Linked DNA regions of Homo sapiens: region 2 is linked to region 1. Evidence: fine-mapped expression QTL. A gene starts in region 1. The other region holds a variant in brackets. All regions are shown on one strand. Distances are between the middles of the regions. Region 1 holds the start of SYNPO2 (synaptopodin 2). Region 2 overlaps SYNPO2 (synaptopodin 2).

Evidence for each region. PIP is the estimated chance that this variant, and not a neighbour inherited with it, causes the effect.
Region 2: its variant is the best candidate, but not a certain one, in a credible set for the expression of SYNPO2 in monocytes after LPS (Quach 2016, PIP 0.54).

What each region holds. Positions count from the first base shown.
Region 1 is chr4:118,885,881-118,891,109 of GRCh38, reverse strand. It overlaps SYNPO2 (synaptopodin 2), which reads right to left and starts at 2,256. Exons shown (of 5, transcript NM_133477.3): 1 at 1,969-2,256. The coding sequence starts at 2,073.
Region 2 is chr4:119,000,121-119,005,349 of GRCh38, reverse strand. All of the region lies in intron 1 of SYNPO2 (synaptopodin 2), which reads right to left. Among named protein-coding and RNA genes, the nearest start is that of SYNPO2-AS1, 18 kb to the right of the region's middle. The variant G/T (reference allele first, on the strand shown) is at 1,985.

The DNA of each region.
Region 1 (5,229 bases):
AAAATAGAGATGCCATTAGCAGAGAATCTCCACAGCACCCTTTCCTAGCAATCTGCTTCAGCTCTTCAGTGAATCGCCGCAAAGAGGTCCCACATTGAAATCGTCACATGCAGAACTCAGAAGAAACCCACTACCCACTCTATTCTTGAGGCCTGGCTGCCAAAGAGCCACCAGAGAACAACAGCACTCAGCCACTCTGTCCCCATATTTCAATTAGTAGGCAAGCGATTCTAAAACTGTACACTATCAGGATCGTAGAATACTTGGGCAAGACAGAGCTTCGTAGACTGCACAGTCCAATTTCTTTCTTACTTCTTTACCACCTAAGTTAAAATATTTGTCTCTCTCTCCCTACACACACACACACACACACACAGAGAGAGAGAGAGAGAGAGAGAGAGAGAGAGAGAGAAACCGATGAGACAGGAAGGGTGAGAGATTTTCCTAAGGCCAGGCTGCAAGTTAGATCAGAGCTGGAATTAGAACCCAAATCTCATACCTAGAGCCAGCCAACTGCTATTCTAGACTCAGGACAAATCTGCTTCAGTGTCATGAATTCTACATATGCTAAATTGGGCATTCATATTTTATCTGAGGTTGCCTGCTATTGACTCCTAAAGGAACCCAACAAAACCACCTTTCTGAGCCTTTAATCACTCTGCCAGTTCCAAGCTGAAAACTTAAGGCAAGTTACTTAACATCTCTGGGCTCTTTCCTCATCTAAAATTCATGGGTTGAACTGCAGACCTCGGAGGAACTTTCCAGTAATAAAAACTCTGCTTTTCATCTACTGTTTTATGGTTCATTCTTGATGTTTGCAATTTTCACTAGGTGGCAGGATTCCACCATCACATTACGAAAGGATTTACATATGATGCCTGGAAGCAAAAAGGAGTTTCAAAGAAACTTCTTTCTTCGCAAAGGACACTAAAAAAAAAAAAACGTAAAAGGCAGAGGGAAACAATAACTACAAAAAAAAAAGAGTAAAAGCCAGAGGGAAACAAACAATAACTACAAAGGCAATGGCCCATGTATTTCATAAAGATCTGTACCCATTTTTAATATAAGCATAAAATAGGAAATTAATCCCATGCTCTTGCATGTTCTTCAATACAATACTATAATTTGCAATTTGATGATAAGGTTAGGTAAAAGTTTGCTTAGTTTTGTGCATTTTAAGTTTTATTTTAGCTGAATGCCAATTAGAGAATACCAGATCCCCTTGGGCTAACCAGTAATGCAGGCAATCTAATGGCAATAAAAACTTAAAGCATTTTAAATAGTTATTAATGTGTTACAAAGTTACCTCTTAGTTACTCATAATATATTTAGATTATCTTCTAAGTTTATTTTTGAGATCTTGACCAAAAGAGTACATAAGAAGGAATACAGCATTTATTGGATTTTTGCATTTATTTGTCAAATCCTTAAAAGGGTATTCTTTTAAATAGATTTTATGACACTTCATCATACTTTTAAAATTATTGCCCAACATTGGCCTTTTCATGAATGCTGCATAATAAATGTCACTACCAACACTCTATATGAGTCCCCAAAATAGCCAAGCAAAGTCGTTATGCTGAACTGAGCGTTTCTCCTCTGCCAGAGCCAAGTGAAGTGACATCAAACAATAACTCAACTGAACATTCTAAAATTGCCTGGAAGAAACGCTCCCCAGTGTCTTGCTTGTTGTCAGAAGAACATGGTTAACTAGGCCTTTTCCTCAGCTGATAAATATGGCATTCTTCCCACCCACCCCTCATCGATTGCAAGTTAATTACATAGGATGTGGCCCATTACTCTCCAAAGTTTCTTAGAAAATAACTCACTTCCTAGAAAAATCTTAATATCCGCAGCAAAATCAAATAATACTTAGACTTCTGCATCAGAACCTGAAAACACCATCAGCAGGTTGCTTTCATTCCTTCCTTCCTAGCACAGAGCCGTGACACTTCGTTCAGGTCCTACCTTTGCAACTTGTAAGGGCTGCTTCTGCTCCTTGCCACCTTGCAATCTGAACCCCCAGGGCGCCCCTCCAGTCATGGAAATGCAGATAAAATCCCCTGTGCCCATGTTTTCCTTTTAGTTGGGCAGCATGAAGAGCTTGACGAGACAGACGAAGCTTGGGTGCGGTAGAGGATGCGCACTCAGCTTCGGGCGCCTGCCGAGGACGCAAGACTGGGTAATGCAGAGCGTCCGCCGCTGCTGCAGCCGCTGCCCCAGCCGCCGCCCCAGCCGCCTGCTGCGAATTTGTGCGGCTAATGGGCTCATTCTCAAGGAGGCAGAGGCGCTCGCAGCATCCAGGACACAGCCCACTCTTGCGTCACTCTCCTTTGCTCGGCCCACCTTCGAGGAAAGGAAAGCAGCTTCACACACAGGAGAATGTCCTCACGTGGGGCGAGATAAGGGAAAGGAGGACGGAAGGGAGAGCCAAAGTTATCTTGCACTAACAGATTAAATCCAAGCAGTTAATGGTATAAGTATGATTGAAAAACTTACATTTAATAATTCTGTAAATAGTAAAGGACACATGAAGGTTTAATCTCCACGCCATGAATGACGTCCTAAAATAGGAGCGTTGGGAATTCAACTACTAGAGGATTAGATTCTCTCAAATAAATGTTTTGAGACTTGCCACATTTATGAATGGAATAGACAAAAAAGAGTTAAAATGAGTTAAATTACTACTTTTCTGTCTGCATTCTGCTGAATTATTCCTATAAGAGGAAACAAAAGAAAGCACAAACTTTTTGTTAATAAACCTCCAGCTCTGAAAAGTACCTTTCTGAACCATATATTTAGAGAAAGGGGAAGAGAAGAGACAGAAAGGGAGAGAGAAAGAGAGAAAATGAATATGAATTTTTCTCCTGGAAACTACATTCTTATAATTACATCTATTGCATAGTTTTGGGTATGTTAAATTTTAACGTGTTTTGTTTTCTTTCTACCTGCTGATCTTCTTAAACCCAAACCCAACAGTTAGTCAACTGCATAAAATGTACAATGTCACCTACAGGTTTCTTATTTTTATAGTTTGTCATCCCATGTCATGAATCTGGGTGGTCCAATATAAAAGCAGATTTTGTATATTCCAAATATTTAAATGTTTTAAATCTGAATACAATCTGCCAAAAATGTACAAAAAGGACATTTTAATTTTCCTATAATACTTTTGTTTTCCATAACATTCATCCACATAAAAACATACTAAATAAGGAAGAGCCTGGGAAAGTTTGTTTGTGTTACTTGTGGTACCAAACAAAATTTCCAGACACGCTGCCTGTTTCAGCACTAAGAAGCACTATATACAGTAAGTCCTCACTTAAAACGTCACAGATAGGTTCATGGAAACTGTGACTTTAAAACCAATTTTACCATCGACTAATTGATAAAAACAAGGTTAAGTGACTACAGTCTATTTCTGGTCACAAAGACATCACCAAACTTTTAAATAAGATTAAAACACTTCTAATATTAAACATGGAAATAAATGTCAGCTACACATGCATTTAAGAAAGATTAATAAAAACAAGATAATCATGGACCCAATTTTTGGTGAATCAGTGAGTGAGGGCAGCTGTAGTGGTGGTGGATTCAATCAAGGAATAAATGTTTGCAAAAGGAAAATTATAAGGAGTACCTCCTGTCACAATGCAGTTCAAAACCACCACAAATATAGCAGGCTCACTGAGAAATTTCATACAGCATCATCTATTGCTGTGCATTTGTGTGATTAACATATATTTTATGAATTTTTTTTGAAAATAATTTGCATCCATACATTCATTCCTCCTCCAACCCACTTATTCCCATTCAGGATCTCCAGTGGCTTGAGCCTCTCCCTGCAGCTTAGGGCGCAAGGCAGGAATCAGCCCTGGACAGCCCTGACCATCCCATCAGAGGGTGCACACACACACACACACACACACACACACACACACACTCACTCAGATGGGGACCATTTAGACATGCCAGTTCATCTCATGAGCACAGCTTTGGGATGTGGCAGGAAACCAGAGGACCTGGAGAAAACCTATACAGACATGGGGAGAACTTTCAAACTCCATACAAACAGTGGCCCCAGCTGGAAATACATTTTTTTTTCTCATCAATGTTGTCATGAAACAATGTTGAATAAAATGGCATTATTCAAGGACCTGTGGTACAATGAACATTTTACACAGCCCATGCTCCCCAGAAGCCAAAGGCATCAAGTGATTTTATTTGTGACTCATCACTGGAGTGAGGACAATGAAATCAGAGATTGTGGCACTGGAAGAGACCCTTTGAAGGTCATGAGGGCCAGATACTCATCCCAAGTTTGATTCTTTTCAGAAACACGAATTGACTTTCCCAGTCTTTCCTTTAAACAATAGTTACAAGAGACATCATAAAATATGAGCTTTGACACTAATTACAATAGCAAAGACTTGGAACCAACCCAAATGTCCATCAGTGATAGACTGGATAAAGAAAATATGGCACATATACACCATGGAATACTATGCAGCCATAAAAAAAGAATGTGTTAATGTCCTTTGCAGGGGACATGGATGAAGCTGGAAGCCATCATTCTCAGCAAACTAGCACAGGAACAGTAAACCAAACACCACATGTTCTCACTCATAAGTGGGAGTTGAACAATGAGAACACATAGACACAGGGAGGGAAACATCACACACTGAGGCCTGTCGGAGGGTGGGGTACAAAGGGAGGGAGAGCATTACGACACATAACGCATGCGGGGCTTAAAACCTAGATGACGGGTTGATAGGTGCAGCAAACAACCATGGCACATGTATACCTATGTAACAAACCTGCATGTTCTGCACATGTATCCCAGAACTTAAAGTAAAAATTTTTAAAAAATGAGCTCTGAGAACAAAGAAAAAAAACACTTTCATATTTGTTCTTTTTACTTTTTCATGTCCCTTCTGCTCCTCAATCCACTCAAGTCTAGCTTCAAATTAGTGATGGTGTCCTCCTTAAATCATTTCTCCCTTAGGCTTCTTGGGCCCAGCAAGCTCTAGGCTTTCTTCTTGCCTCTGTAGCCACTCTTATCAAAGATTTATTCTGTGCAGGAACTTGAAATATAATGTTGTATTTATTTTCAAAGCAACCATGCTAGATAGGTATTAGTGTTTCTCTTTTACTGATAATTAACAGTGCTTTAAATCCTAAGCGATAGAGCCAGGGTTTGAACTTTTGTCTGCCCGAATTTGTCTGCCC
Region 2 (5,229 bases), 110 kb before region 1:
AAAACCCTAGAAGAAAACCTAGGCAATACCATTCAGGACATAGGCATGGGAAAGGACTTCATGTCTAAAACGCCAAAAGCAATGGCAACAAAAGCCAAAATTGACAAATGGGATCTAATTAAACTAAAGAGCTTCTGCACAGCAAAAGAAACTACCAACAGAGTGAAGAGGCAACCTACACAATGGGAGAAAATTTTCGCAATCTACTCATCTGACAAAGGGCTAATATCCAGAATCTACAATGAACTCAAACAAATTTACAAGAAAAAAACAAACAACCCCATCAACAAGTGGGCGAAGGATATGAACAGACATTTCTCAAAAGAAGACATTTATGCAGCCAAAAAACACATGAAAAAATGCTCATCATCACTGGCCATCAGAGAAATGCAAATCAAAACCACAATGAGATACCATCTCACACCAGTTAGAATGGTGATCATTAAAAAGTCAGGAAACAACAGGTGCTGGAGAGGATGTGGAGAAATAGGAACACTTTTACACTGTTGGTGGGACTGTAAACTAGTTCAATCATTGTGGAAGTCAGTGTGGCGATTCCTCAGGGATCTAGAACTAGAAATACCATCTGACCCAGCCATCCCATTACTGGGTATATACCCAAAGGATTATAAATCATGCTGCTATAAAGACACATGCACATGTATGTTTATTGCGGCACTATTCACAATAGCAAAGACTTGGAACCAACCCAAATGTCCAACAATGATAGACTGGATTAAGAAAATGTGGCACATATACCCCATGGAATACTATGCAGCCATAAAAAATGATGAGTTTATGTCGTTTGTAGGGACATGGATGAAGCTGGAAACCACCATTCTCAGCAAAATATCACAAGGACAAAAAACCAAACACCGCATGTTCTCACTCATAGGTGGGAATTGAACAATGAGAACACATGGACACAGGAAGGGGAACATCACACACCGGGGACTGTTGTGGGGTGGGGGTAGGGGGTAGGGATAGCATTAGGAGATATACCTAATGCTAAATGACGAGTTAATGGGTGCAGCACACCAACATGGCACATGTATACATATGTAACAAACCTGCACATTGTGCACATGTACCCTAAAACTTAAAGTATACTTTTTTTTAAAAAAAGGTAATTTTGAACAATTTCCACAAATGGACAGACTTGGGAATAGTGAACCCTAAGTTAGAGAAAGCCAAACAAACAATACAATTTGCTCTGCAGAATTCCTTGAAGAGTTAGGAATTTGTGGAACAGTAAAGGTGAATGTAGGGCCGAAAACAGGAATGTTGTTGAAAGTCTAAAAACACAGTAGACCCTCTCAATGCCATTTCCTGTTTCCCACAGCCATGTAAATATCGTTTATTTACCCTACAGGACACCAGGCACAGCTGAGGGTGGAAAATAAGGGGTGAAATGAACGATTAACTACCGGATCCTGAAATTCCCACTTAAAGCCATGTCGTATCTGGGCTCCCGGAACTCTGGCAGCTGGAATTTATACCTTTCTAGGAGGAGAATGGAAGATTCTGATTAGCCAGTCAATTAAAATAGTGATATTAGGACTTTGCCAAGAAACAGCCCAGCCTGACTCCCCTAGAGTAAGCAGAGAGCCAAGGACATCAGTTCTAATCTAAAGGAAAGCCTCTACTATAAAAGATACTAAAAAGGCAGAATGCAAACATAGAGACTATACTGGGAGGGGAAAATGTCAAAAAATGTTATTACTAATGTCTCCAGAATGATATCAAACCATGAAACAGAAACAGGATGATACAAAAGAGAATGAGAAGGACTTTTGGCAATTAAAACTCTCTTAGCAGAAATGAATAGCTGAGTAGAGAATTTGGAAGACAATGTTGAGAAAATTTTCTAGAGTCTCCTGAAACCTAACAAGTTTGAATAGCAGTGATATGGTTTGGCTCTGTGTTCCCACCCAAATCTCATCTCAAATTGTAATCCCCACGTGTCAAGGGAGGGAGGTGATTG[G/T]ATCATGGGGGTGGTTTCCCCCATGCTGTTCTCATGATAGTGAGTTCTCATGAGATCTGATGGTTTTATGTGTTTGGCAGTTCCTCCTTCACAGCACTTCTCTCTCCTGCCACCCTGTGAAGTAAGTGCTTGCTTCCCCTTTGCCTTCCATCATGATTGTAAGTTTCCTGAGGCCTCCCCAGCCATAAGGAACTGTGAGTCCTTTAAATCTCTTTCCTTCATAAATTACCCAGTCTTGGGTATTTCTTTATAGCAGTGTGACTAATACAGCAGTGGACTAATACAGCAAGACAAAAAGATAAAAATAAAAGGAAAAAGCTAAGAAAATTAGAGAGGATGCATACAAATGGTTCAACAGCTAAATAACAGAAATTCCAGAATGAGAAAACAGAAAACAAAACGAATAAGTCATCAAATAATTCAAGAAAATTTCTTATAATTGAAGGCAAGCATTGCTGGATATAAAGGGCCTATACAATAGAGGAAAATATACTCAAATCAATAGCCTAGAATGCTATACCCAGATAAATTATCAATTAGGTGGGAGGGTAGAATAAAGATGGTATCAAATATACCCAGTCTTAAAAAATTCAGCTCTCATCACTTGTTCTTAGGAAGCAAATGGAGGAAGGGAACCACAAAAAAGAGGAAGAAAAACCAAAGAAATAGGGAATCCAACTTGAGAGAGAAAAGAGAAATCCCCAGGATGATTAAGAAGAGACTCCAGGAAGATAGCTGTGCACCTGGCAGAGAGTCACCAACTTAAATTAGAGGAGGGTAGAAGACTCCAGGAAAGATGGCTACAAAACCAATGACATTGGCCCAGCACAGTGGCTCACAGCACTTTGGGAGGCCGAGGCCGGTGGATCACAAGGTCAGGAGATCGAGACCAGCCTGGCCAACATGGTGAAACCCCATCTCTACTAACAATACAAAAATTAGCCAGGCGTGGTGGTAAGCACCTGTAGTCCCAACTACTTGGGAGGCTGAGGCAGGAGAATTGCTTGAACTGGGGAGGCAGAGGTTGCAGTGAGCTGAGATCACGCCGTTGCACTCCAGCCTGGGTGACAGAGCAAGACTCCATCTCAGAAGAAAAAAAATGACATTGATAGCACTCCTGATATATTTTAAAATACCAGGAGGACAGTTAGATGGAGTGAGTTTGGGGATGAACTAATGACAAATACTTAGAAAACTAAAATCTTAAAAAGAAAGACAGTTGTCAATTATCAGGAGAAAATAATTTATGCAGGAAAGGAAAAAGTATTCCTAACATACTACCTGGCTAAGCTTAATAATCTAAGCACTGAATAGTGATTCAATCAAAATATAATTATATTGGGAGGATGGGGGGCACTAGGTAATCATATGAGCTTGAAGTAGGGACTGGAGAAGGGTAACAGAACTATTTATCTTCATCTTCCGTTGTGACATAACAATGAATAATTTTTACAACTGAGAAAAATCAAGAAATCACACAGATGTATATTTTAGAAATAAGAAAACTAGACAAAGGTAAACACAGATGTATATTTTAGAAATAAGAAGAAAACTAGACAAAGGTAAACACAGATGTATATTTTAGAAATAAGAAGAAAACTAGACAAAGGTAAAAAGAATATGTTTTGCTTTTGGGAAATCTAAAATTGATGGTTTTTCATAAAACGTATTCTAGAACTATTTGACTCTTTAAACTAGGTATATGTAACTTTGATAAAGAATAAGAACTAAATTTTAAAAAGCGTCATGGCTTTTCAATAAATCCTTGCATTTTTGATATTTTGGCTTCCCGGTATACTGGATTTGAGTGACCTGTGAATTTAAACTTAAACTCTGGACAAATAAAAGTTGCCTTGACTTTCTAAAAGTTCTGCTGTAGAATATTAAATAATCTATGTGCTATGGACATGAAGGGTTAAATAGCTACTTACCTATTTCTTCAGTTAACAATGAGTATCTACTTAAGGACAATATTAAAGTGCTGTTTTTATTTCAGTATCTGTCCTTAGTCTAGAAGTCAGTATCTAAATATAAATATATATAAATGTATCTGTGTCTCGTGTACAAGGCTATGTTTGATTTAAGATTTTGAGGTGGAGAAGCAATTTTTCTTTCTCTCTTCCATTTTTTTTCTGTCAATTGATCCATTCTTCTTTTAACTATGTATGGAAGGGCCATAGGGCTAGGACACTGCACAGGTTCAAGGGGGCATGGCCACATTAGACACATGTTAATGGCACCCCCCATGGGGCACAAAGCCAAGGAGAAAACGAACAGTGGGTATGAAAATGGAGAGACTTTTTACCTCTTGAGGGGAAAGTGTGAGGGTAGAAAGAACAGCCATGTGGAATAGAAATTCTATGATGGAGAGCTCAAATATAACTTCACTTCACTGCACTCATATGAAACTCTAGGCCTAATAGATTTGTGCCCCAGTGAATGGTTTCAGGTGGTTACAGATTTTCTAGACTTATGTCTCAGCAGATGTTGCGAGAGAGAAAAAAAGAAAAGAAAGAAAGAAAGAACAGCAGGAAGACATGGACCCTCTCTGCAAATGACATAATTGAATTCTAAGAAGTGGAATTAAAAGTTTTTGTTATTTCAACTTGTTAATCTTTGCTTCTTCTCTCTCCTGTCCACCTCCCTTCCCCTTTCTCCTGGAATCCAGCCCTGGCAACTCAGATAGCGATGAGGTCATGGGCTTCAAAATATGGCCATGGTATGAAGGTGGCAGCACAAATTTTTAAACAACATTTCAGCACCATGCCACATTGCCGAGAAGGAAGCCTGTGTAATGTGAGCAACTATAGCTCATGCTATTTTATTAATCCTGGGTGGTGATCCCTGGGGTTGTATTACTCGTGTGTGTCTGTTTCTCTCTGTGTGTCTGTGGGTGTCTTCTGCTGTTTTACATGACAGTCATCAGGAAGTCTTCCTCAGCTTGGACATATCAAAGGGAGGCGGGCTCTCATTTATTATTAGCAAGGTCTTTCACATTAAAAGCAAAGAAAGAGTGAAAGGAGAATGATCCTCTCAGACCCAGGAAAATGAAGGACAGGTTATCTCAGTGGGTTACAAGTGGTCTTTTTCCTTCACAAGGAAACAATGCCTCACATCTCACATCCCCTACCTGTGTCAGTGTCTTGCTTTTTATTACCTCATTAAGTCGCCAAACCTTGCTACCTGGTGGAAAAAGATTGATAGTGTGATAACAGGAAGGCTGTCTTGCTCACATTGCAACAGAG